Homo sapiens: one gene and its partners. The protein of the gene in region 2 interacts with the protein of the main gene of each other region in a biochemical or structural test. Each region holds a gene or a part of one and is shown on either strand. Other genes may lie near its edges. The genes, in order: CACNA1D, SHANK1, DLGAP1 and WWTR1.

Region 1 (7,030 bases), on a different chromosome or scaffold from region 2:
CAACCCGAAGAGACAGGAAGGTATATACAATGAAACCCCTTATATACAACTTCTGTTACTCGCATTCCAGACTGCTACAGCTTTGTGTCACTTCAGAAAGCAAATCCTTTTAAAAAACAGATGGTAAAAGAGAAAATGAGAAAGACTTCCCCCAAAAAAAGGATACTTCCATTCCACTATACTAATGCAGGCTCTTCGGATGGGGTTATTGAGTGATAAACAGAAAAGGGCGCGGGCAGGTCGGCTGTTGGACGAGTTACCCTGTTTTTTGCTCTTGGCGTATTGCTGACGTTTTCTTTGGGAGAGAGATCCTACAGGTGGGGGTGCAGAGGTGCTCATAGTTTGGGCAGCCTTGGCCTGTCTAGCAGCATCGATTGCAGCTTGCCAAGACAGGACAGTTTGCTTGGAGCTATTCGGCTGAGAAGTTGGTCCTTCACCAGAAAGAGGAAGTCTGGTGCCTCTTGCATAGTTTGCCTCTGGGGAGAAGGAGAAAAACAAAGATTTTTTTTTTTAAATGAGGATCCAGTGGGTAGGAGAAAAAAATCAAAGGTTGTCTCCCATCAATAACAGGGGAATCATTCACTCCTATGTTTCCATTTTGAATCTCATGTGCTATTTTTCACAAGCTGGGCTTTAGTCAGCTGGAGAGTCAAGAAAAGTCCACGAGCTCTGGTCTCAGTGTCAATCACACAGGATCACCGCTGCATCACACCCAGTGGGGTTAGTACTCCTTCACATCATGTCTTCACAAAGGGTCTTTTAGTGCATTTCTTCTGACAAAACTGAGGTCATTCCCACATTTACTCCGCATCTCTGATTTGTAAAACCCATCTATCTCTAATGAGTAACAGATACATACAACAGCTTTTCTCTAACATAACTACCACCATCACCAAGGGGAAAAAAAAAGGCAGTACCAATAATTCAATAGTCTTAATCATTTTCAGAGTGTTACTCCAACATCTTTCCACAGCCACAAATGCATTTTTTTCAGTACCGAAAAAAAATCTTCCATAGGCACCCAGGCAATACCAAAAACCCCATAACAAATATCTAGATTATGCACTGACACTTCCTGCAAATGAAAATTCATGATGCTTGGGACTCATTTCCTCCACAGGCTTCCGAAAACAGAAAACATCTTTAGGGCTTTTTTGCATTTTAAATTGCAGCAGCATCAGCCAAGCCAGCATCCAGAGAGACAGACAAGGCAGTCAGCCTGCACCCCTACACCTAGGATAGACTGACTGGATTATGCCAGGGGCCTCCAGGCCTAAGAGGGAATTATCTCCGTGTAGGTTGGTATCCAGGTGCACACAAGGCAGAAACTCAAGGAGGCTCCCTATGCGAAGCCCCCGCCAGCTTTGGGTCAGGCCATCTCCCAGGCAGATCTCCCAGGCACCTGCCGCCTTCCGCCACAGTCTCCTCACTGAAGCAGAAGTGAGAGAGGTGACAGCAAGGTAGAGAGATGGGCGTTTGCAAAGCCAATTATTGCTAAGTAAAGAGTCAAAGCAAGCACGGGTCTGAAAGCCTGAGAAGAGGGCAAAGCGGGCGAGCGGCGGGCAATCGGAGCGGGGACGAGTCGAGTCATGTCAAGCTTCTCCCTAGGGGAGCGCTCACCCGGAAAGGCTTCCAGCCGACAGGGGTTGGGGGGCACTGGCGGTCTCCAAAGGGGAGGGCTGGCCAGGAGCTGCTCCATCCTCCCTCGACCCAGCCCCGGCCGGCGTGGAAGCTGCACGTGGTGCCCGGGCCAGAGCTGGGGAGGGGAGCCCCACAGCGGCAGCGGCTCCCCGGGCATTGCTAGGTTACCGACGTGTGCACAGCCGGCGACGGGAGCGGGAACGCACGCTCCACCCGAACCCCTTTCCCCGATACCGAGGCCGGGCCTCCCCCGCGAGGGGATGGGTGTGCTTCACCCACCGGCGCGGAGGGCGAAACCGGGCAATCCTAGAATTTTCCGGATGCCACCAGGGACCTTCTTCCTAGTCAACGAGGGGGCGGGGGAGGAGTGGAAGGCGAGAAGAGGCTGGCAAGGGGGCTCCGGCTGAAGACTTGCGGCCCTCCTGCCATCGCTCGGGGGCGTTGAAGGAAAGTTGAGCCCGAGGACACTGAACCCGAATCACCCCGACTCGCCGCCCCTCCGGCTGCACCGCGCTCCACACACTCCACGGCCGCCCCCACCCCACAAATGCAGAATTAACTCTGACATTCAGGGCCTGGAGGGGAGCGCGGAGTGGCTGTCACGCATGTCCCCTCTCTGTGTAGACGACACCGAGCTGGCAGCACCCTCTCCAACCCCCTCAACCCATCCAGCGCCGCGGGGAAGGGGGAGGGGGCTGGAGGACCATGACAGGATCGGATTTGGCAGCGGGTGCCCGGGCTCTGGCTGCTCACCGTTCGCGTGGTCCGCTTGCTGCTGCCGTTGATGCTGCATTTTTTTCATCATCATCATCATCATCATCCACGAACATTTATTGAGCGACTACTGTGTGCAGGGCACTGTGCTGGGCGTTGAGGCGGGGGCGGAATGGGGAAGGGGATCACCAAGAGGTAGGAGCCGCGGTCCCTGCCCTTATTCTCGCTTCAGCAGGGGGGTGGGGAGGGACGGGGACAAATAACAGAAAATAAGGATAATTGATTTAAAAAAAAAACCGCTCGCCACCCAAGCTCTCTCTTTTTCAAAAATGGAGCAAAATAAACTTTTTAAAAAAATAAAATCCAATGTATATATTATCTTAATAATATATACATGTAATTTTTTGCTGCAAAGGAGAACTGGCTTGTCCCCTCCTCTAGCGGAGAGACGCCGCGGTGATGCCGGCCCGGCCGCCGGGGCCGCTCGGCGCTCCCCCCATGCCCGCCCGTCTGCCCGCCCGCCGCGGTGCCCGGTGCCCGCCGCCGCCGCCCGCGCCGCCGCTGGCTCGGGACCGCGGGCAGCCGGAGCTCACATCCGGGGACGGAGGCGCTCGCCCGCCCGCTCGCTCCGCGCCCGCCGCGCCGCGCCGCACGCCGGCTTCGCCCTGGCGACGCTGCGCGCCCGCCGCCGTCCCCCGCCCTCCGCCCGCCCCGAGCCGCCCACGGCCCGCGCCGCGCCGCGCCCCGGCGGGTCTGCAGCCCGGCGCGCGGTTCTGCCCGGCACCACTTGCGCGCTCGGGGTGGCCGTCGCGTGGGACTCGGGGTGCCGCCACCCCAGCCTGGCCCGGCTGACCTGCGGGCTCCAAAGGGTTAAGCGCGCTCCAGCGGCGGGCTGCCCGGTTAACCCCCTCCGCGCCGCACGGTGCGCTCTCCCCCCGGGACCCGGAGGAGGCAGGCGGCGCCAGTGTCTCCCGCGGCGCTGGGGTGCGGATGAACCGCTCCTCCCCGCGCATTTCTGGGCTGGGGGACAGCTCGGGCTCCCGCGCCGGCCCCGACTCCGCGCCGGCCTCCTCTGCGCACACCTGGAGGAGGCCCCGCCCCCTGGGAGCTCAGGTGCTAGCGGGCGGTAGCTGCTGCGGTCTCCGAGCTCATCCTCGTCAAGGCTCGGCCGGGCTCCCTGGCTGCTCCGGAGCGGGGCAGGCGCCCCCTGCTTTTCTCCGGCCCTTTCTGGAATCGGGGGGGTTGGGGTAGCCCGGGTCTGTAGAGAGCACTCACTACCCCAGGTAACTGCCTGCAGCTGGAACCGCGAATCCAGGGCGCCCCCCATCTTCTCCCCTGCCCTGCGCCTGGCCTGGCGTCGCGGAAGGCAACGGGGATGGGGGGCAATATCTCCCCCCACCCCACCCCGCCCCCACGTGTGTTTGGAGGCAGGTACAGGGAAGTCAAAGCCAAGGTCTTTCAAACCGCTCGTGTTGTTCAAGGAAATAGACGGTGCTGCTGAAACTGTTGCCTCCAGTCTGGGAGCTGAAGGGAGTAGTTTATTTTTTGATACCTTCGCTGGCTTGGATTTAGGGTGGGGGAGATTTGCAAACGGCAGCTCCTGTCTAAAGGGGAAAATACTTTATCTAGTGGATGACTGATATTTTTCATTTAGCTTTGTGCTGCCTGTTAGGAGAAGGGCGTCTGCTTTGTTACTTCACAGGATTCGATTTATTTGCTTTTGTTCCTATCTGCATGTTCCTACGGCGTTTTAGAACGTTTCAGAACAGTGACTTTAAAGCGAAAATAAAGTAAAAGCTCAGCGTGAATTAAGAAAAATAAGTGTTTATGGGAAGGTGCTCCTTACCCAAAGAGAACACACTAGTCATCCTCAATTGTTGGGGGGCACCTGGGCAGAGAGACTGGGGACCAGACAGAAGACTCTCCAGAGGCCTTCCTGAGGGGGTGTCTGGTCCGTGAGGATGAAAACAACCAGGCTCTTGTCCTTTTTTGTGCTTTGTTTTTGGAGACTGGAGAGGCGAGAAATCGCCCTACGGTCTAGTAACAATATAAAGCTGGCCTGGGCCACCTCTCCTATGGCTGCTTCTGATCCAAAATCTGAAGGGAATAGAAGACGGTTCCCTCCAAAGAAACTAGCCCATCCAAGGAGCATGTATGAAATTCACAAGTACACATGTCACTTTCAGAACTCCTGGTCTAAAGCCTTGCCTCTTGAGGCCTTTTCTACAAAATTCCCTGAGCAAGTTTGTTTTATGATACCTTTGCTGGCTCAGATTTGGAATGGGGGAGATTTGCAAACAGCAGCTCCTGTCTAGAGGGAAAAATACTGTATCTAGTGGATGACTGAGCCGAACCATATTTGCTCATTGTTCAGTTCAGTGCAGCCAGCATTCATAAGGCACCGGTTAAGAATAAGGGTCTGGTCTAGATGTCAGGACAAATCTATGGCACAGTTCCTTCCTCAAGGACAACCTAATGACAGAAGAAAAGTTTGTATACTTTTTTTTTTTTTGAGACGGAGTCTTGCTCACTCTGTTGTCCAGGCTGGAATGCAGTGATGCAGTTTCAGCTCACTGTAACCTCTGCCTGTTGAGTTCAAGAGAGATTCTCCTGCCTCAGCCTCCTGAATAGGTGGGACTACAGGCGCGCGCCACCACCCTCAGGTAATTTTTGTATTTTTAGTAGAGACGGGGTTTCACCGTGTTGGCCAGGCTGGTCTCAAACTCCTGACCTCAGGTGATACACCTGCCTCGGCCTCCCAAAGTGCTGGGATTACAGCCGTGAGCCACCGCGCGCCCGGCCGTGTATACTTCTTTCATACCATGCAAACATAGCAGCTATAACAAGTATGAAAAAGCGCTATACAAGCATCAGACAGATTAATTGTAACTGAGGGAACTGAGATGTTTTCACAGAAGAGAGGGCATTTGAACTGATTCTTAAAAACTGACCGGGAGAAAGAGGGATGAATAGGTGGCATACAGGGAATTCTAGGGCAGTGAAGCTATTCTTTATGATACTGCCATGATGGACGTAGGACATTATGCGTTTGTCAAAAACCCGTTGGACTGTACACCACAAAGCATAAACCCTAATGCAAACTATAGACTTTTGTTAATAGTAGTACCACAATATTGGTTCATCAATTATAACACTGGGGTGTACCAGTGTTATAACTGTGTATATAGTGTAGCTCACTAATGCAAGATGTTAATAGGAGAAACTGTTGGGGGAGAGAATATATGGGAATTCTGTCCTTGCTGCAAAATTTTTCTGTAAACCTAAAACTGCTCTTAAAAAAAATAAAGTCTATTAAAAACAGGTGACTACTTTTACAGGGCATAAATGATGTATGAGGAATGAGCTTTGGGGGTAAGAGCAAAGGCACAGGGGAGACTGAAGTGCAAGGTGGGTGTGTTTAAAAATGAGCAGGAGCACAGTGTGGCTGAGGCAAAGACCCCCTGGGCTAGAGGAGGAGGAGGCTGGAAAGGCCAACCCAAATCTGTGGAGGAAGGCTGGCTGGCTAAGAAGACCAGATTCAATTTCTTGGCAGTGAGAGCCAGTGAAGTTGTTTTAGCTCAAAAGTGACATGATTAAATTGTGGTTTCGGTCTCCAGGTTTTGTGCGTTAGATCTTAACAAGTTTATGGTATTGCAGGAGGGTTTGGGGTTTTTTTTTTAAATAATTATTTTTAGAAACAGGGTCTCACTATGTTGCCCAGATTGGAGTGCAGTGGTGTGATCATAGTTCACTGTAAGCTGCAAGCCCTGGCTTCAAGCAGTTCTGCCTCAGCCTCCCAGCGTGCTGGGATTACGGGCATGAGCCACTGCTCAGCCTTGAATTGGAGTTTTTGACATTCCATCCCAGTTTCTGAATGAGTCTCATCTTGGCGATGTCTCCAGCAAGCATTTTTTTTTTTTGAGGGCCTTGATTCAGCACAGCTCTAGATGCGTTGGCCCATTGGGTAATTTAAATATTTATATTCCCATGATAATGCAAACTACTGAATAAATAAATAATAAGATCTTTTAAAGGCTTCCTGTGTGCCAGGTTCTAGGGTAGGCACTTTATATGTACTAACTCATTTAATTCTCGTAACAAGCCTACGAGGTACTATAAAACCCTCATTTTGGCCAGGCTCAGTGGCTCATGCCTATAATCCCAGCACTTTGGAAGGCCAAGGCGGGCTTGAGTCCATGAATTTGAGACCAGCCTGGCCAACATGGTGAAACCCCATCTCTACTAAAATTACAAAAATTAGCTGGGGATGGTGGCGTGCGCCTTAAGTCCCAGCTACGTGGGTGGCTGAGGCAGAAGAATCACTTCAACCTGGGAGGTGGAGGTTGCAGTGAGCAGAGATTGTGCCACTGCACTCCAGCTTGGGCAACGGAGCAAAACTCTAAAAAAAAAAAAAAACAAAACTCATTTTACAGACAACAAAACCAAGACACTGAGGAGTTAAGTAGCTCGCCCAAAACCACACACAATTACTTAGTAGCTGAGCCAACAAGACATGAGGAAAGGCTAAAACAAAAGATTTCAGCTCTAAATCAGCTACATGTGCTACAACCCAATTATGTTGCTAACACACTATTGTGGGGTCTTAATCTCCATGACCTTATTTATAAAGCACTCCCACTTGAACGCACTGAGCTGGCATGCCAGACATGATTAC
Region 2 (7,026 bases):
CCAGCACTGGCGTCCTCCAAGGAAGAGGGCATTTGGGGGCTCCCTCTGCCTGCCCGCAGCTGCCCCAACCAGCCCCCTCTCCTGCCTCCTGGCTTCCGGCTCTGCCCCCTCCCACGGTCCTGCGCGCACCGCCTGATTCAGCTTCCTGAGGCTGAGCTGGGACTGTGTCATCCCTCCGCTCACGAGCCTTCCGCGACTCCCAGCTTCCTCCTGGGTCAGGTCCAACTCCTCTGCCCGCCGTTGCCAGCCTCTCCCCCACTTCCTCGGGACACGCCTGGCTGGCCTTCGCCTCCTTCTCACCCTCCTCTAGCCAGGTGGGCTTCCTGACCCCGGAATGTCCCCCGCCCCTTCCTCATCCTCCCTCCAGAGTGACCTCTCTGTCCCCCTCAAGTCCCTGCCACCCCCCCCATCCTCTTCCTGTTCAGCTTCCCTCCACCTCACCCTGTCATTCTGTCTGTCCCCAGGGGCTGGGGCCCATGTTTCTTTGGGGTACCCTCTGCCTGGGGCCCCTGTCCTGGAGCAGACATCCAGCTAACATGTGGTGCACCGGGGGTGGAGTCGGGACAGTAGCTCCCAAGGCCTTGCTTTACCCCAAGGTGACACTAGGGACTTGGATGAGGGCCTACAGAGGAAGGCAGCTGGGCTGGCCTCGGGGGAAGCCGCCGATCTGGAGAGGGGATTTGACGGGGCTGGGGACTGTGGAGCCAGGGCTGCCTCCCCTACCTGGGCCGGCCTCGGGGCTGCCTCTTGGCGTCCTCAGGGTGCCTCCCTCGGGATGGAGAGCGGGCCCTGGCACCCCGGGGGCTGCTGGCACTTCGGAGGGTCCCGCTGCTGAGCTTGGTGGTGGGGGCCGAGGGCTGCGACTGGCCCTGGGACCCTGAGGTAGGGCCAGGGGCCCCAGAGGACGCGGCCCCCGGGGCGGAGAACACCATCCAGTCGGGCAGCGCCATGCTGGTGTCACTGTTGGCCCGCAGCAGCGCCGGGGGCACCGTCAGCCCTGTGCCTGGGGGCCCCCGTCGCCGGGCCGCGTACTTGGGGGACTCCTGGAAGGGCACTGAGAGGGCACAGTGGCGGCGGGGGGCAGATGTTAGGGGAGAAAAGGCAAGCAGGGGGCCATGCGGGGGCAAGAGATGGTGGGAGAGAGGCATGAGGGAGAAAGACAGAGATGAGAAAGGGAGGGGGGCCTGGAATTGCTCCCCCACCACCATCCAGACATTTTTGGTCCTCTAGGGTTTTCTCCATCCTATCCTGGCCCCCAAGTCAGGTCCCCCAACTCCCCCATCCCACCATGAAACCTCAACCGCCCCAGGTTCTCTGTGCAGTCCGAGCTCCCTGTCACTCACCCACATCCTGTTCTCGGTGGTTTCGGATCAGCTCCCCCAGCTCAAAATTCCCAGCAATCACTGCCACCTGGAGGGAGGGGGTAGAGGCAGGTCGGCCAGGGGGGCCCAGGCAGCAGAGAGAGGGCAGGGAACGTGGCGAGGTCCCTGGCCCGACCCAAACCTTCCACTCCGACAATGCCGCCCTCTGTCTTCTTCCAGCTCCCCCTCCACGGCCTGTCTCCTTGCTTTCCTCATTGTCCCCTTCCTTATCCACTGGGTGTCACTGTCACCCTTTCCTTAGCCCTGGAAACTCCAGCACATCCCCTGCAGCCCCAGACCTGGAAGGGGGTCTGTCCGTTGTTGTTCTTCACATCCTTGTCGGCACCTCGATACAGGAGGATCCTGGCACAGGTCTCCTGCGGGTAATGGCCAGTGGCACAGGACAAAGAGAGAGAGAAAAAATTAAGATCACCATGAGTGGATGCAGGTTCTGTGCTAAGAGCCTCAGGAATAAATACTCCACCCTAAACCCGCACCACTGAGGACAGCAGCCACCTGCCAGGTACGGACCAGGAGCACTTTAGTTTAAACGTGGCCGGCCCAAACGGAGATGCACCATGCATGCGAACTACACACTGGATTTCAAGGATATGCCATATGAAAACAAGAAAGAATTTAAATGTCTATAGCCAGGCGTGGTGGCTCAAGCCTGTAATCCTAAGACTGTGGGAGGCCAAGGCAGGAGTTCCAGACCAGCCTGGGTGACATAGTGAGACGCCCCCCGTCTCTACAAAAAAATAAACAGAAATTAGCCAGGCAGGTGGTGGGTGCCTGGAGTCCCGAATACTTGGGAGGCTGAGGTGGGAGGATCGCTTGAGCTCAGGAGTTGGAGGCTGCAGTGAGCTGAGATCAAGCCTGAGTGACAGAGCAGGGACCTGTCTCCCCCCCAGAAAAAAAAAATGTCAGGTGTGGTGACACACACCTGTAATCCCAGCACTTTGGAAGGCTGAGGTGAGTGGATCACTTGAGGCCAGGTATTTGAGCCCAGCCTGGCCAACATGGTGAAACCCCGTCTCTATCAGAAAATACAAAAATTAGCCAGGCGTGGTGGTGGGCGTGTGTAATCCCAGCTACTCAGGAGGCTGAGGTGGGAGAATCACTTGAACCCAGGAGGTGGAGGTTGCAGTGAGCCGAGATCCTGCCACTGCACTCCAGCCTGGGTGACAGAGTGAGACTCTGTCTCAAAAAAAAATAATAATTTCTGTATTGATTCTATGTTGAAATGATAATGTTTTAGATACACTGTTATAAGTAAAATATGTTGTTAAAATAAATGTCACCTAATTATTTTCCCCTTCTCTTTAACATGGCCACTAGGATATTTGAGGGCATTTAGGGTATGTGCTCATGCTATGTTCCACTGGATGTTGGGGCCGGATAATCCTTTGGTGATTCATTGGTTTGTGGAGGGTGTTCTGAGCCCTGTGGGATGTTGAGTAGCATCCCCGGTCTCTACCACTAGATGCCAGTAGCACTCCCCTCCCCAGTCATGACAACCAAAAATGTCTCTAGACATTGCCAAGTGTCCCCTGGGAGACAGAAGCTCCCAGGTTGAGAACCACAGGTCTAGACCTTACGGAGGCTTACCATGTTACGTGCCAGGCGCTTGGCACTTTAGAGGCAGAAGCTCATTGAATTGCCCAACAATTCCAGGACATGGAAATTGTCTCTATTTTACAGAGGAGGAAACTAAGGCTTTCAAAAGAGCCCAAGGTGGGCCAGGGGTGGTGGCTCACTCCTGTAATCCCAGCACTTTGGGAAGCCGAGGAGGGAGGATCGCTTGAGCCCAGGAGTTTGAGACCAGCCTGGGCAACATGGCGAAACCCCGTCTGTACAGAAAATTTTAAAAAATTAGCCTGGCTTGGTGGCACACGCCTGTAGTCCCAACTACTTGTGGGGCTGAGGTGAGAGGATCACTTGAGCCCAAGAGGTCGAGGCTGCAAAGATCCTTGTTCATGCCACTGCACTCCAGTCTGGGTGACAAAGTGAGACCCTGTCTCAAAAAAAAGGGGGGGTTGGGGGGGCTCAAGGTCACACAGCTGGTGATTATCAGCCTTGGATTCGAACCCAGATCTCTCTGACTCCAAAGTCTTCTATCTTAATCACACTTTCTGCCAGGCCCAGAAGGAAGGGGACACACATTGTGGAGGAAAGGGTGGGGGCAGGACTGGGCCAGTGGGGACAGGGATGCCTTCTACATTCAGATCAATTTCTCACCGGTGTCAATCACATGGCACCCATCATCACTTTTTGGGCTAAGCACAAAGTCCATGCCACGGCCTAGGAGGGTTAGGGTTAGCTGAGCTAACCTGAGCTGCCTGCCCTGCCACTCCCCACCCTGACCCTCACCAACTTCATCTTCTACCACCTGCCCTTGCTCCCAGGCTGCAGCCACACTGGCCACCTCCTTCCTCTGACAGCACACTAATGCCCCAGGACCTTTGCACGGCTGCTCCCTCTGCTTGGAATCCTTTCCCGCTAGATCTCAGCATAGCTTGCTTCCTCACTTCGTTCAGGCTTTTGCACAAATGCCGCCTCTTCAGAGAGGTCTTCTCTGGCCATCCTGTCTAAAAAAAAAACCCTTGTCCTCTTCCTTGCTTTATTTTTATTTATTTATTTATTTTTAAAATTTTTTTGAGATGGAGTTTCGCTCTTGTCACCCAGGCTGGAGTGCAGTGACACGATCTCGGCTCACTGCAACCTCTGCCTCCCAGGTTCAAGCGATTCTCCTGCCTCAGCCTCCCAAGTAGCTGAGATTACAGGCACCCACCACCATGTCTGGCTAATTTTTGTATTTTTAGTAGAGACAGGGTTTCCCCATGTTGTCCAGGCTGGTCTCGAACTCCCAACCTCAGGTGATCCGCCTGCCTTGGCTTCCCAAAGTGCTGGGATAACAGGCATGAGCCACCGTGCTCAACCCTTTGCTTTATTTTTTAGTACCACACTGATGTATGTGCCAGGCACTCTAAGCCAATGTTAACTCATTTTCTTCGTAACCCCGTCTCACTGAAATTCCATTTCCTGTTATTTGTCTCAGTAGTGTCTCTTCTCCTCTACACCATAAGTTGTACAGGGGCATGATTTTGCCTGTGGCACCCACCACCTGGATTAATGCTGGACCCACAGGGACTATTCGGTAGAAGGAGTGTCCTCTCCCTTTTATCTTGGCCTGGCCAAACCCAACTTGGCCTCCAGCTCAACTCTACCCCAGCGCCCTCTGATGCTAATTTAACCACCATTTCCCAAGCACCTCCTTGATCTTACCCCTTCCACATGACAAATCCACCAAGGGGTTTGTATGGGCCTATGTTACAGGACAGGTTCAGAGAGGGCAGATGCTACGCCCAGGGCCACACAACCAGTTAGTGGAGCAGTTAGGATTCCAACAACCTGGCCTTCTTCTTCCTTTTTTTTTTTTTTTGAGACAGAGTCTCGCTCTGTTGCCAGGCTGGAGTGCAGTGGCGTGATCTCGGCTCACTGCAGCCTCCACCTTTTGGGCTCAAGCAATCCTCCTGTGCACCTGGCCTTCTGATCCTATGGTTCACCTATCTCCTATGAATGGACGACTCTGACTGCCAAAGTCACACATCGGGCAGCAGAGTTAGCCCAGTGTGTGTTCTGGGTGTGTTTGGGAGTGTGTGTGTGCATGTGAGTCTGTGTATGCCCGTGCTGCTGGCCAACTAGACTGTTAACTCCTGCCATGTGTACTTTTGCGTGTTTTTCTTTTCTTTTCTTTTCTTTTCTTTTCTTTTCTTTTCTTTTCTTTTCTTTTCTTTTCTTTTCTTTTCTTTTCTTTTCTTTTCTTTTGAGATGGAGTCTCACTCTGTTACCCAGGCTGGAGTGCAATGGCGCGATCTCAGCTCACTACAACCTCTGCTTCCTGAGTTCAGGCAATTCTCTGCCTCAGCCTCCCAAGTAGCTGGGATTACAGGTGCCCGCCACCATGCCTGGCTAATTTTTGTCTTTTTAGTAGAGACAGGGTTTCACCATCTTGGCCAGACTTGTCTTGAACTCCTGACCTCGTGATCCGCCTGCTTCAGCCTCCCAAAGTGCTGGGATTACAGGTGTGAGGCACCGCGCCTGGCTTTTTGCATGTTTTCACAGCCCCAACACCCACACTGGGGGCACAGGGCCAGAGCACAGCCCCTAAGGTCACCTGCTCCTCATCCTACTCTTACAAAGCTGAGAAGGTGTGCAAGTCAGAGTTGATGGCTCCCTCCCCTGGGCACCAAGAGAAACTCGCATTTAACGGCATCCTAGCACTTATCTCATGTCGTAGCCATGATTTGCTTACACGTCTGCCTCCTCACCAGACTGTGAACTCCCACCCCCCCCAACCCCGCCCTCGCCCTCCCCAGGCCAGATGCTGTGTCTGATTCATCTCACATCCCCAAGGCCTGGTGCTGTGCACATAGTAGGTGCTCAAGGAACGTGCATGGAAAGGATGAGGATGGAGGATGTGGGGTTGAGTCAGTCAAAATTCATTTGTTCGAGTCATTCATTCATTGGTTGAGTCATTCAGTCTGTTGAAACAAGCAAACACCTGTTGAATGCTCTGAGCCAGGCACTGTGCACAGTCTTGGTGGAAATCCAAGAGGGCTGACCCCATCATTCATTCACTCATTTTCATTCATTCATTCACTCACTCAACAAAGATGGAACTAGGCCTGCTGTTTGCTGGGGTCCTGGAACAGAGCAAGTAATCAGACTCAACCCCCACCCTTGAGGTGCTCACAGCCTAGACACGGATCTGACATTCACCACCAAATGCTAGACGGGCATATCAGGAGGCCAAGGCGGCAGAGGCTGAGGAAAAACTGTCAGACTCAGCCCTGGCTCTTGGAAAGCTTAAAGCCTGGGAGGAAGACAAGGGGGGAAATGGAGGAATCAAGTTCGTATGTGTTATGCATCGGTTTGTTAAGCCCATGGCAAAGGCAAGCAAACCTATTAACCCACTTGATCCTTTTGCATGGTAGATATTTATTTATTTATTTTTTTGAGACGGAGTCTCGCTCTATCACCCAGGCTGGAGTGCAGTGGCATGATCTTGGCTCACTGCAAACTCCGCCTCCCGGGTTCACGCCATTCTCCTGTCTCAGCCTCCCGAGTAGCTGGGACTACAGGCGCCCGCCACCACGCCTGGCTAACTTTTTTTTGCATTTTTAGTAGAGACGGGATTTCAGCGTGTTAGCCAGGATGGTCTCAATCTCCTGACCTAGTGATCCGCCCGCCTCGGCCTCCCAAAGTGCTGGAATTACAGGCGTGAGCCACTGCGCCCGGCCTGCATGGTAGATATTAATTATTGACCCATTTCACAGCTGAGAAAGGAGATCAAGGAGGGGAAAATGACTTGTGCAACTGTCCCACTAAGAAAACTCTGCCTGCTGTCTAATTCTAATTTTTTTTTTTAAGGCAGGGTCTCACTCTGTCACCCAGGCTGGAGTGCAGTGGCATGATCATAGCTCACTGCAGCCTCCACCTCCCAGGCTCAAGCAATCCTTCTGCCTCAGCTGCCCGAGCAGCTGGGACTTCAGGTGCATGCCACTGTGCCCAGCTAATTTTTGTATTTTTTCATAGAGACCAGGTTTTCCCACGTTGCCCAGGCTGGTCTCGAACTCCTGGGCTCAAGCCATCCTCCTGCCTT
Region 3 (7,026 bases), on a different chromosome or scaffold from region 2:
CCAATCATCTTTTTTTTTTTATTATACTTTAAGTTTTAGGGTACATGTGCACCTTATGCAGGTTAGTTACATACGTATACATGTGCCATGCTGGTGCGCTGCACCCACTAACTCGTCATCTAGCATTAGGTATATCTCCCAATGCTATCCCTCCCCCCTCCCCCCACCCCACCACAGTCCCCAGAGTATGATATTCCCCTTCCTGTGTCCATGTGATCTCAATGTTCAATTCCCACCTATGAGTGAGAATATGCGGTGTTTGGTTTTTTGTTCTTGCGATAGTTTACTGAGAATGATGATTTCCAATTTCATCCATGCCAATCATCAAGAAAGCAGCTGCTACCCCTTGAAAAGTCACTCTACTAGCTACTGGGCTCAAGCCTATGAGACATGCAAAAAACATCAGCTAATTCACTACTTAAAAGAGCTTAAAATCTCAGAATATTCACATAAAATGTTAAAAATGTGAATATTATAATAAAGTAAGTAATCCAGATAAATGCAACTGGAATTCAGAGAAGAGTTTACCCTCAGCTGAGTAGTCATAAAATGTGTGCTGTGAGAGGTGAGATTTGGCTGGGCCTTGAAGGATACAAAGGACATTAAAACAATTATTTTAAAAGAAATCCTTCCTCCTGGTAAAACAGTCAACTAGATAGAAGGACAGAAAGGGAAAGAAAACCCCTGAGGCTCCTTGTCCTAGTCTCTAGGAGCAGCCACTGTTAACAATTCATCAAGTAGATGGAGCTTGAGTACATGCAAATAAACAAAGAGGAAAAATAGCTGGAACAGCAGAGCCCTGACAAACAGGAGTGGTCATGGTGGAGGCTGATGCAAGAGATTATTAGGAAATGAGGGTAAGCAATGATGAGAACCAATTGTGTCTTCACACACTCGTCCCACTGACACATCTGAAGGCCAACCACGTTCTAGGCATACTCGGGTCTGGAGTAGGCAGGGGAATACTAGCGAATGGGATTGTTGCTCTTTTGGGGGGCTCCAGGACAAAGTTTGAGGAGTTTCATGATGACCTCAAGAGCATTTTAGAAAAGTAAATTTTGATGTGAGTTTAATCAGATCCTAGAGATTAGACATCCCATTAAGAAGCTGCTATGTATTCCAGGCATAAAATGATGAAGTTGTGAAGTCAAGCAGCAGCAGCAGCAGCAGCAGCAGAACTCATACAGTACAACCACCTTGCTCTCTAACGTAATGAGTAAGAAATTAAGACTAAGAGAAGATGGGTGTTTTGCCTAAATTTAGAATGTAATTAAAGGCTTTATAAAATAACTATGGATATAAAAGTCTTGAAGAACTAAATAATAATATCTTTGTCATTTCAGAATTGGAAAACATTTCTCAAACATATCTTATTGGTACCATAAAGAGAATTTAAAATGCAACTATTTTAAATTTAAACATAATCTTTTCATCCAGAGACATCATAAAAATGAGAAGACAAGCCACCAACTGAGTGGAGATAACTGAAATGCCTATTACAGAACAAAACTCTGGTATCCAGAATATATAAACAGCTCTTACAAATCAATAAGTTTAACAAAAAGAAGTAGGAGAGTGGGGAACATGTATGAATAAGGAATCCACAGCAACTAGAATATTAATAAAGAGAGGGAATAAATCATCAACATTACCAGGAGACATGGAAGAACAAATTAAAACTACAATGAGATATCATTTCATATCCATAAGATTGGCCAAAAATAAAATGTATCACCAAGTGTTGACAAGGATATAAAACAAAAGGTGTTCTTATAGATTGCTGTTGGGATCATAAATAGGTACAACCATTTTTGGTAATTTGCATTATCTGCTAGATGTGAAGATACGACTATTACCCTACTGCAATCCCCCTCCACCCTAATCAGAGTCCCCTTTGTTAGCACAAGGTGATGTACACGTGAATGTTCACATCAGCCTTATTTGGAAACATCTTAAATGTCCATCAACAAAGATTGATACCTTTATCATGATACAGTTCTACAATGGAATACCATATATCAGTAAAAATGAATAAATCAGATCTACATGTCATCAAAATACTGAACAATTACAGTAAGGTAAAGAAGACTACAAGAGCATTATTACTACTTATAAATAGTCTAAAAAAGCAAAACAAGACTATATTGCTTAGGTACACATACATACATAGCAAAGAATAAGGAAATGCATGCATAAGAACAATAAACACAAAACTCAGTGGGCTGAGTCCCTCTGAGGGAAGACATGAAGAGTACACTGAAGTCTCAACAGTGTATGCAATGATTTATTTCACCATCTGGGTGGTGGACACAAAGGGGTTTATAATATTATTTAATTTTTGGTGTTCCTGAAATATTTCACAGGAATTTTTAATGAATAATAAAGAATTAAAAAGAATGTGTGACACAGGTACAGAGTAAAAGAGAAAGGAAAGAGTCAAATATTGCTTGAAAATTTTTCAAAATATTTACTCCCATTTCTACTTCCCTGGACTTGATTCCCAATAATGTAAGCCTCACTAAAACAGCCTCTTCATGCTTCTCTCTGTCCCAGTCTGGTGTTAGACCCATCTACTCCTATCAGTCCAAGAGGCCACTTCTTCACGTCACTGCCTATTCAGAATCTGTCAGTGGTTCCTATCAAATCTAAACATTCTTGTATAGCCATTAATGACCCTCTCAATCAAATTCATCTTCAGGTCTAATTAAAGTGGAGGAACTGGAGGAGAGAACCATCTTCTGGACCAGGAACATGCCAAGTTCATTTGCACCTCCACGTCTATGCAAATGTTTTCTCTATCTGAAAGTCGGTCCTTCTTCCTATGTAAGTCTTACAAATCCATGAAAATCTAGCTTCAGATCTTCCCTATTGGAAGCATTCCAAAATGATCTCATTCTCTGTTGAGCCCCTACTCCTACAGAAAAGCCCAAAATAAGTACATTTGAGCACCAGTTTCATTCTGTAACCCATTATTACTAATTATTTCCTACATTTTAATCGTATTCTTTGTATTACATTTCAAGCTACCCAAGGAGTTTAACTAGGTCTTGCTCTTCTATATTCTTCACAGTAATAAGTACCCAGGAGATGTTACAAATATTTTTTGTTTGCCCATACTTGGAAAGGCTGGATATATACCTACCAAAATACCTGACATCTATCATCAAGATCCCTTAGGATTCATATCATCAAAGCAGAGTGTTTTCAATTATCTATAAAGCACATGCAAATCTAGAGGAATTATTATGCACCATAGTTTATAAAAACATGGTGCATGTTCGCATTCTGTCTCACCATTCCTCACAGGCCATTCGAAGCTGAATGGTAGATGTGGTATCTACAGCAGGGTGCCACATGGAAGGTTAACATATCCCCAAGGCTGGCCCACCTCACCACATCATTCCAGTAGTTCAGAAGCAGATAGTAGAACAGAATACACTACATGTCTGGCCAGAAACAAAACTAGTATAAAAAATTCATGAAAATACCTAGAAGGCTGTGATTCCACATCAGTAAAGATGTTAGATTCCAGTCTCCCCTGTGAGAGCCAACCCACATCTACGTACCTACATAGAGATCAGCCTCAAGCAAGAAAGGCAGTTGTAGCTGCTTCTCTGCCTCCCACAACACTTTCCACCTCATCCCTGTGATCTGATTTATTCTTTGAGTCCTTGGTGAACTTTTGCTTTCTTCCACTTACAAACCACATAGGGGCCACTGTCTCTGGTCTCCCTTGAGCTTCTGGTCTCCTAGAGGGAGACAGGCATATACGCAGAAAATGAAAAACAAAACTAGGTTATAATTACGTATCAGACTCAATGGAGACACAAAAAGGAGAACTCAATGTAAGAGGTGAGGGGTAGGAAAGAAGTTTATGCTAAGCCTTAAAGGGTCAGAATAAAGTAAGACAATTAATCTACTAATATGTTAATTTTGAATAAGAAGGAGGAGGAAGAAGAGGGAACAGGAGTTTGTTTTTTCTTTGCTTCCTTTTTAAAATCCTTATTGTATTTCAAAACCTTACCTCTGCTTGCCAGCAGAGTGCATGTTGCCTAGTTGGGAAATGTAGCACTGCGTAGCCCATCACCTTATATTCAGGCTGGGATCAGCTCAGTGTTTACCAGGTATTAACAGAGTAAACTTAGGACCAAAGAACACAGCATCTGACATTGCAAAGAAGTGCCATGCAAAAGCTGTGTAACACCATCCTCAGAGTTATGGCCCTTATGCACTAAGAATACAGATGTGCATTCACTTGTTTATTCATTCACTCAACCAATGTTTACCCACCATTTATTAAGTGCCAGGTGCTGTGCTAGGCATCAGTGATATTTGGTGAACATTCTATATTTAGTTCTTGATCTCACGGAATGCACAGTTCAGTGGGGAAAGCAATCTGACACTCACAAGTCAACACATCATTATTGACCGTAAAAGGACCATGAAAAAGGAATAAAGTGCTAAAACAGCATTCAGCTGGAGACCTTCCCTGATTAAATGACTTTTCAGCTGAAGTCCAGGAAAGAGGGAACAATGTAAGAAACAGCATTCCAAGGAGAGGGGGAAAGATTTCTTAGCCTGCTCCATAGAAGCTCTAGAATCAAGTGAGTCTTATCTGAACTACCTAGGCAAGGATTCACAGGAAAGACTTCCAAATGCATTACCACTTCAAGATTCCCCTGCTGACCCTCCCAAACTCTAAACGGAAAGCACATCCTAATTTGAAAGGATGAAAAGGTGACTTTGCCTTCTGGGTTAATGTCTACACGAAAATAGCTTTGAAGAGAGTGAATGTGCCTTGTCTTTTTGCTAGTATAGTATGATGAATCATATCAAAGAATGGTTGTTTGCAAAGTCTGAGACAAGATCAAAATGCCATTTTCCTCTGAAACTGCAGCATGTGTTTTGTAAAGAAATCTTAGTGATATCTAGCAGGGAAATTTGCAGTCCAGAAATAGACTCCACACTGATTTCTACTGAAATTGAAACCAAGAAAGAAGGGGTATCCAGGGAAAGGGTGTAATCATGAGGTTAGAATGAGGGTTAGTGCCAGTCCTCCTATCACATACTCAGATGTTCTCCAGTAGTAGAATTAAAACAGCAAGTTACTCTAGCAGATGTTTTCAAATTAGCTAAAACCGTGTCACCAGAGTAAAGCAGCAAAGCTGGAAATGTGCCCAGAGAGACCTTCCCACAAGCCGCCTGAGGGAGCCATTTAAATGTCTCTGAGCCCTCCTAGTGCAGAGATTCAGATGCAAGGCTAGGGAGATAAGCAAGTCACAGCACAATGTCTCCTCATCCAAATGCTTATCCATGGCTTCAGTAAGACCACAACTCTGCTGAATATTAAGAAAACCTGGCAAGATTGAGCAGTTCCAAATCACACACTTTGTGGTTTGCTGTTGTGCTGTTGCTTACAAATCTGATAAGAAAACATTGAGAGAAGACAGAGAAATTGTCAATGGCAACAGATGAGCAAACCATGATAAGTGAATATGAAAATGAACAGTTTGGTTGCTGGCAAATCCTAGGGAGAGGGAGGAAGGTGGTTTGCATCTTCATAACATATTCAGAACACTGATATCTAGTTCACAATTAGATATCCAGTGGGACAATCACATCCCAGCTATGCTGGTTGTCTATCCAAGAAAAAGTCCAAGGATCTGAGCCAAATATCTGTGGATATAGATCCACAGGGCTTCCTTTTGCATGAGCTGGTTTTCCTAAGTGGGATGTTACTTGCTGCCCAGTAATCATTAACTCCTATAGGAGGGAGAAAATAATAAAGCAACCAGGAAAAATCTTAAGTCAATAATGGATGAAGATAACCCTGTTTCTCACTTATACAACAGCTATCTGTCCCCTACCATTTACTAGAGAGAAGGATGGGAAATGGTTGGGTCAACACGGCTCCTGTGCAATACCAACCTCTGTACAATCAGACTAAAGAACAGAAGACCTCAAAGGGATGTCATTCACCTTTTTAACTGCCTTATAATCACACCTCATTTTTTTCTTGTTCTCAATCACATGTTTTGCTCTGTAGGTGTGTGTTTGGCAGGGTTACAGGGAAAGGTGTAGCAAATATACAGTATACAGCATTGTATAAGCTAAATAGTTACATCTTAGAAGCAAAAGAACTGGTACCTGGTATCTCATACAATCGGTTATCTGTGGGTGTCTAATAGATTAAAATGAATGTCAGAAGACTATTTCTAAATCCTCCTCTGTGGTAATGCAATGTTTTAGATCTTCCTAGGAACAGCATCTTTGGCAATTCCTGATAGACCACACAACTAGAGAAAGTCACCTTCATCGGGCAGTAACAAGAATCGAGCTACAAATTCTCATGCTTCGGAAAAAAGAAAGAAAAAACATCTTTTGAGGGACACTGTAGTTATTCCTCTCTGAAAATAGAGAACTAGTAGCACTTAGGATCTTAGGAAATAAAACAGCTCAAGATATGGGATGTTTTTGAACATTCAGGTGTTTCAACAACAACATAAAGATTTTTCTACAATGCTAGCAAAGTATCTTTTTGTGATAGTGTTTCTTTAAAATAAAAAAAATGTACAAAAGACCAACATACCACAGACATAGGCATAGATTATAACTATGAGAAGTGAGGATTGGGGAAACGTGTTTAGGTTTTTCAAGAGTCTTTTTAGCCTTCTTATTTCAATGGTGTTCCTGTACCAGGGGAAATATAATTACCAATGGAAAAAGAGAAAATAAACAAAATAACCTAAAATTGTATCATTTTCTTAATTTAAGAAAAGAGAGGTAAGTGTGATTTCTATAGAGATGAAATCTACATAAAAGTAGATTTTAATTGGATGCTTCCTGAGAGGAAACCAATTTCCTCTCCTCTGATAAACAGTGGAGCAATTTGTGGGAATGGTCATGAAGGTAACATGAATTTGAGCTGATCATAGAAATTTCACTATAGAAATACACATTAGATAACATTTTACTATTATCTCTGAATTTGAAATATTACGAGATCAGAATCAAAACACTGAATTC
Region 4 (7,026 bases), on a different chromosome or scaffold from region 2:
TCGGCTCCTGATCTAGGTGCTTTGTGTTACATGTTGTTTGTCAATTCACTGGTTTGTGTACCAAAGATCACATGCCCTCCTTACCTCTGCCATAAACACACAAATTAACTGAGAAAGTATACACATGCACACACACACACACACACAAATGATCTGGTGAAATTATCTCATAACTTGTGATAACCTTTGTGGAATTTGCTTTAGACCACTATGTTCTATGTAAGGCTTAAAATGTACTCTAGACAGGGAGGTGTGAAATGAGATTTTAACAGAAACAAAAGCCGAGGCTAGATGAGTCAGGATTGGGGCCAGTATTCGAGCCTCCGTGAATTGAATTAAGGTAATAATTACTTAAACAGTAATGGTTAACAGGAAAGTACTTTGGAAGGAATCTCAGGAATCTATACTCCAAAGCAGAAAACATTCTGATGGTCTATTTTTGATAAGGTATTGTGGGCCCTGGTCATTAATCTGTATGTTCTTCCCTCTTGCAGTGATGAATCACCAACACCAGCAGCAGATGGCCCCCAGTACCCTGAGCCAGCAGAACCACCCCACTCAGAACCCACCCGCAGGGCTCATGAGTATGCCCAATGCGCTGACCACTCAGCAGCAGCAGCAGCAGAAACTGCGGCTTCAGAGAATCCAGATGGAGAGAGAAAGGATTCGAATGCGCCAAGAGGAGCTCATGAGGCAGGTATGGCTTTCCATGGTGTCTGGTGGAGGCTCCCTGGCCTTGGTGCCAAAGCTGATGGGTAGGTAGCTGCTTACCTTCAGGGTAATTCTTCTAGAGAAGAAGAGACAATAGGGCTCAAAGCCCTACTCCAAGCCTCTTGATTAAAATCCAGTTTCTTCTCTCAGTGTTCTGCCTGCCTTTTCAGAACGAAGCTTAAGGGTACAAGGACGAGCTGTATTAGCATGGCTGCCTTTGGCTTCCACTGCTAGTCTTTAGAAGGAGAGAAAGGAGAAAGTAGAGAGACAAGAGTCTGTTGTTGTGTAACAAATTATCCCAAAATGTAGTTGCTTAAATAGCCATTTCATTATATCGCACAATTTTGTGGGTCAGAATTTAGAAGGGGCTCACCTGGGATATTCTTCTGCTCTACATGGCATTGACTGAGGTCATTTAGTGGTATTCAACTGGTAGGTGGGTTGGTCTGGATAGTTCACAATGGCTTTACCTAAGTGGGTGGCATGATGGTGAGGATTGCTGGAAGACTGGGCTAAGCTGGAACAAAAGCCTGGGATCTATGGTGTGGCGATCTCAGAGTAGTGGTACTCATTCCATAGCAGCTGGGTTTTCAAGAAAAAGCATTCTAAGAGACAGGAAGTAGAAGTTGCCAATTTCTTGGGGCCTAGCTCTGGAAACGGTCGTGGAGTCGCTTTTGCCACACTCTCTTGGTCAAAGTAGTCACAGAGAACCCCCCGAGATTCAAGCAGATAGTGGAGTGGATGTTCCTCAGAAGAAATGACAAAGGATCTTGGTCCACCACAGAGCATGAAAAAGAGGGAAGCTGAAGGGAGAATGAGAAGGGAAAGTGGTTTGTATATGGACTCCAACAGAGTGCTCTGCAAAACTGCCTGGGCATCAATCAGGCACTTTTGTACCATACTCCATTCATTCAGTTTTCATTCCGTCAGTCAGGAGTGTGTTGCCGTGTGCCCTCTGTGGGTCAGGCTCAGTGCTGTACTTCAAAAACGAATACAAGAGAATTCCTAAAAGAACCCACAGTGCTCTCCCTGTTTCAGTGGCTTGGTCTATGGAAGAGCAGAATTCTTTCTTCTGTGTTGCTAAACTAATATAACCCATGTTTTCAGGTCTCATGCTTTTTTTCTGGCTACATTTTTGGGGAGAAAAGCTTCAGTTTATTGTTTTAACTTTTCAGACTTTGTTTTGTGACTCACATGAAGCAAGATACATGAATAACTTCCTTTTGCTACTTTAGAGAAATTAGAGAAATAAGTAGTTTTAACATTCCAGAGAACTTTCTTGGAGGAAAGGACCGAGCATGTTAGGGTAAATGCTGTTTTTTTAAAGCTACATTTGATACTTTCAAAAATACACATTGACTTCCATGAATGAATAATGTATTTCTCATCAAATACATTCCAGGATATAAGAAATCTATATTGTGTGAGGTTTAAAATGCATGGTAAATTAAAATCATTTCTCAGATATAGTCTTTGAAAATAAGGAAAATGAATATAAATTGTGCTTTGTTGCTCAGCTGAACTTTCCTCCAAATTTGAGGAATACAACTTAATAATTAGGTAACTACAGTTGTGTCTTTTACCCTGAGGATTTATGTTTGAACTTTCACGGTTATTTCAGGCTAACGGTTGTTTATACTGATTTTAGATATATAGTGTCATGTTTCTTGATGGGAAGTAATTGTATTGTTAATTGTTTTCTGTCTTTGAATAATAATTTTATTTGGAATAATTTTTCTGTTTTATAATGTAAGGTAAATTAAACAGTATCCCAACAGCATTTTATACATTCTCAGTTTTATACTTAAATGAGCTTTAGTGAGTTTTTTCTTTACACAAAGTTGTGACCATTCTGCAAAGAATGACTTGCTTCTCTGTTTTTGCGGGTGTGTTTCTCTTTCTCTTGCTTCTCCTCCTTCTTTCCCACAGAAAGTATTTCTGAAAAGGGGTGGGAAAAGTGCCCCAAATTGTTTCCTTTATTCCAGCTGTAGGTGCCTTTGAACCAGGATGTAGTACTGATGGTTCATATTACAGAAATGCCAACCAAGTTCCTTAAATGCTGATCCTTGGAGGCTGTGGAACGTGGGGCGTTGTGCTGCATCATAGTGAGCAATTGCATTGTTGCATTGTATATGAAGCAGGAGAAAAGATTGTCCAGATTTGCTCACAGGGACTCATGTAGTTCAGCCTTGACTCTGTGTGTGTGTGTGTGTGTGTGTGTGTGTGTGTGTGTGTGTGTGTAGTTAGGAGGAGATGGAATGGTGGAGTGGTTGGTTCTGGTGTTCTGATGCCTTTTTATTTTTGTTAGGGAGTACAGGAAAAGGTCTAAATAGACTTTTTAATCATGGCAGATTTTTTCCCCATGCAGAAGCAGCATGCTCCTGATTGTCAAAGATATGATTTAAGACCATATAATAAATGGCATTGGAGTGTTCTATAATAGTTTTCTGGGGCATTTGCCAGGACACCTGATTATTCAGTATTCAGGTGTGGGCTCTGTGTTTCATCTTGGTGGATTTTTTGAACTCTTTTGGTGATTTTCTGCTTCACTTTTTGAACCTAAGCCATGGCAGCAGCAGGGAAATGGACTGGAATTAAAAGTGATCTTTGGCTCACTTGTTTAGTTGCCTTCCAGCATCTGGTAGGAATTTGGAGAGATGGGGGAAGTGGTGGTTCTGGTGAAATTTAAAGATTATCTGTACACTTCTGTTTGTTCTCTCTGTCCTACCCCTATGTCCTGGGTAGTCAACAACTGCCTGAATATCCCTTGCTCAGTGGACAGTTTGTAATTACACTGGCTCTCCTCTTGCTTGTAGGCGGCCTTAATTGTACAGCCTGTCTTCTTGGGGCCCAGGCCCTGCAGGTAGGCCTAGACCTACCTGCCCTTCTACCAACTGAGCCTGTCTGGGAGCAAGGCCCCAGGCTATGCTCTCTTTCTGTAGTAGAAAGGGAGGTTGGCAAAATTTAATAAGTAGATGAATTTATCCCCTAATTACTAATAAATTATCACGCTGTCTATAGTTTTATCATTCTTGAATGATACGACGAATCTGAAAGATCCCTGTGGAGAATATGCTATATAAATATTGTTTCATTTTTCTTCCTGTTCCTTCTGCTATGCCGTTGTTCCACTAGGCATATAGTTTGATGATGTTGTGCCATGAAAAAAACAACTCCTTGGTCCTTGTTGCATGATTTGATGTATACCACAATGCCAAAGGGTCACCTATTAACTCATTGGCATTGAAATCATGCGAGAACATTAACAAAATGGATCTGAGGAAACTTTGATTACAAATCTAAAGTGAGCCTTCATTATTTCAGTATGGAAGCTCATATTTTTTTTCCTTCCTTCATTCCTTTATCTCTTCATTCATTCAATCAATATTTATTTAGTAGAAAATAACAGACAGGTAAATGGGATGTGACTGCCTTCAGATAACTTGTATTTTTGCAGAAAAGGAAAAATAATTAACTTTAATCCAAGTTAAAGACCAGAAGAGTAAATTAAAACCATTCCCTGCTTCACAGGGGCCCAGTGGCTACCATCTTTGACTTTCATTACTGGAACTGAGACCAGATGCACCTGAGCAGAGTTCTGTGAAAGTGAGCATCAGATACTCCTTTTTCTTTCCAGTGACCCCTCAGGTTACTGGCTACAGAATTAGGATCAAAAGAGCCAGTAAGGTTTGGTATCTCTGCTGATAAGGAATCTTCTGAAGCAGGAGAATTTCCTTAAATGCAGTCCCTCCAATCTAGCATTGGCTGGTGTAGCAACAGAGCTGAGCTACTTGTATCTGATAATTGATGAATTATCTTGGAATGCGGCAGACACTTCAAGTGGAGGGGTACCAGGAATCTAACATGGAAGACATAAAGAGTGCATTTCTGTGAAAGGAAGTCTTTTGTCTGTGATAGAGTTTTCTTTTATTTTTACTGAATTTCCCAAAGGCTGTGAGGCTACTTCAGGTTCACCAAAGAAATGGCAACTCTAGAAAAAAAAAGCAATTCTTATTGAAGTTTTGCTTTCTCTTCATTTTTTTAAGGAAATTAAAATTTGATTTGTTGAGTTTTTTTAAGTAGAAAAAAATTTTAATTTTTGACTAAGCGTGGTGGCTGACGCGTGTAATCCCAGCACTTCGGGAAGCCAAGGCGGGCAGATCACTTGAGGTCAGGAGTTCGAGACCAGCCTGGCCGACATGGTGAAACCCTGTCTCTAGTAAAAATACAAAAATTAGCCAGACATAATGGCGGGTGCCGGTAGTCTCAGCTACTCAGGAGGCTGAGGCAGGAGAATCTCTTGGACCTGGGAGGTGGAGGTTGCAGTGAGCTGAGATCGAGCCACTGCACTCCAGCCTGGGCAACAGAGTGAGACTCTGTCTCAAAAAAAAAAAATTAAAAATATAATTTACTGAGTTACTTTAGTGATTAGCATTTAAAAAAGTGTTTTTGCTAAGTGCAAGAAACCAGACTTCCCCCCAAAACTACATCCTGTATGATTCCATTTATGTGACGTTCTGGAAAAGCAAAACTATGGGGACAGAGAAGAGATGAGCACTTGCCAGGGTTGACAGTACAGAAAGAGTAGACTCCAAAGGGGCAGCACTGAGGAATTGTGGGGCAGATGGCACAGTTCCGTGTCTTGGTTGTGGTGGCTATTTCACAGCTCTACATTTGTCAAAACTCAGACATGTATACCACAAAGAGTGAATTTTACTGTATGTAAACAAAAAGAATAATAAAAGAAAACGAATTGCTACACACAAAAAGACAAAACGTATGTTTATGGTACGGAATGTATAAAATACTAAACAACAAAGAAGGAAATTATAATCACCTATACTCTTACCTAGAAAGAGTGGCTGTAAATATGCTGATGATTTCTTTCTAGTCTTTTTGTATGTATCATGTGTATCAATGTGTCTACTTTGTTTTTTAAAACACAAAAGTGGTAGCATACTTTAATACTGCTTTGTTGCCTCTTCTTAATATATTGGGAAGTCATTTTTTTATTCTGTGTCAGCCATGAAGTTGTGCTGTGACTTTGTATGTACCCATTCCAAAGCGCCTAGAATCCTTTCTACAACAGGCCGTACATAAATTTTTAAATGTCATGAGCCACACACACCCACAATGACTACAGAGTATTCTGTTGTTACAACTGAAAAATTCAACGCAATATTTGCTCAGTATCCTAAAAGGCACAATTGCAACTTTACCAAATGAAGTGGGAAATCGTAGTCACAGGTCAGACATTGAGAAACAGGCTTCTCAATGCCTGTTTATCTAAAAGAACAATTCCTTGACATGAAAACAGGCATATGGCTTTACCTGAAGAGAGTATTTCTTTTCATGTGTGTTATTCATTTAAATATAACGGTTTGGGGCCATCTTTCTGGAAGATTTTAACCTCGAGGACCAGGACCTGGAAGACGAGTAAGTGGCAAAGCCTTGGCTCCCCCTTGTCCCTTCACGGGGGCTGCCTTGTAGAGAAATCATTATTCCCAAAGCAAATTCAGCCCTGCTTTTACCCTCAACCTTTTCTTTCTTTTTTTTTTTTTTTTTAATTTGGGGGTTGGGGGACAGGAGAATGCAGTTTGTCAAACAAAAATGCTGACTAAGCCTGGCCTCGGGTCGCCGGGGCAACAGGGACGAGAAAAGAGGGAGGCCTCGGAATTCTTTTGGCAGGTCTGTGGGATTTCTGCCAGGCTTGACAGCCACCAGGCGCGGCGGGCCAGCTGGCTGACCTCGCACAGCCATCCTGACAGAGGGCTCCTGGAGGGGGACACACCTGGCTGTGAGCAGCACTGGCCTGGGGAAGGTTCTGAGGCCCCCCCCTTTTTTTTTTTGTCATGCAAAGAATAGCTATTTAGCGAGCTAGGAGAGTGTCGTATTGGAGCAGATCATGAAGCATAAATGTAGGCTATTTCATAGCCTTTGCTTCAGAACAGGGGACTATTTAACTTTTAGAAAAGCATTTCATAGCATTAGGTTTCAGAGTTGACTGGGTTAACAGAGGTCACGTAGTCTAATATTTTGTGAATCTATAAATCCCTCCATATAAGCTTGGCTATTTAAGTTCATTCGTTCATATATTTGTTTTACAAATGCTCTAGGCATTAAAAGTACAGCTGTGAACAACAGACCCCAGCCCCTTCCCTCACAGAGCTTCCATTCTAGCTTGTGTCAAGCGTTTTATTTGCTTACATGTCCCAGAAATAATCCATTTTCCAAAATGTCCCAGTGTGCCCTTGTTGTTGAACAATAGTATCAATTCAAGTCTTTTTTTTTCTTTTTCTTCTCTTTTTGAGACAC

Evidence for each region.
Region 1: the proteins of SHANK1 (region 2) and CACNA1D interact in a biophysical measurement, tested with the Homo sapiens proteins (2 studies listed by IntAct, with this or other methods).
Region 3: the proteins of SHANK1 (region 2) and DLGAP1 are reported together in a solved structure, tested with the Homo sapiens proteins (one study listed by BioGRID).
Region 4: the proteins of SHANK1 (region 2) and WWTR1 interact in a test that uses a peptide from one of them, tested with the Homo sapiens proteins (2 studies listed by IntAct, with this or other methods).

Annotation. Positions count from the first base shown.
Region 1 is NC_000003.12:53,490,598-53,497,627, reverse strand, and holds the start of CACNA1D (voltage-dependent L-type calcium channel subunit alpha-1D), read right to left. Parts: upstream 3,018-7,030; 5' UTR 2,462-3,017; coding exon 2,395-2,461; intron 1,814-2,394; exon of another isoform or gene 1,799-1,813; coding exon of another isoform or gene 1,621-1,798; intron 477-1,620; coding exon 167-476; intron 1-166. UniProt on the Homo sapiens protein: Voltage-sensitive calcium channels (VSCC) mediate the entry of calcium ions into excitable cells and are also involved in a variety of calcium-dependent processes, including muscle contraction, hormone or neurotransmitter release, gene expression, cell motility, cell division and cell death.
Region 2 is NC_000019.10:50,702,777-50,709,802, forward strand, and holds part of SHANK1 (SH3 and multiple ankyrin repeat domains protein 1), read right to left. Parts: intron 1,739-7,026; coding exon 1,661-1,738; intron 1,411-1,660; coding exon 1,344-1,410; intron 1,055-1,343; coding exon 724-1,054; intron 1-723. UniProt on the Homo sapiens protein: Seems to be an adapter protein in the postsynaptic density (PSD) of excitatory synapses that interconnects receptors of the postsynaptic membrane including NMDA-type and metabotropic glutamate receptors via complexes with GKAP/PSD-95 and Homer, respectively, and the actin-based cytoskeleton.
Region 3 is NC_000018.10:4,445,290-4,452,315, forward strand, and holds part of DLGAP1 (disks large-associated protein 1), read right to left. Parts: intron 1-7,026. UniProt on the Homo sapiens protein: Part of the postsynaptic scaffold in neuronal cells.
Region 4 is NC_000003.12:149,536,006-149,543,031, reverse strand, and holds part of WWTR1 (WW domain-containing transcription regulator protein 1), read left to right. Parts: intron 1-494; coding exon 495-697; intron 698-7,026. UniProt on the Homo sapiens protein: Transcriptional coactivator which acts as a downstream regulatory target in the Hippo signaling pathway that plays a pivotal role in organ size control and tumor suppression by restricting proliferation and promoting apoptosis.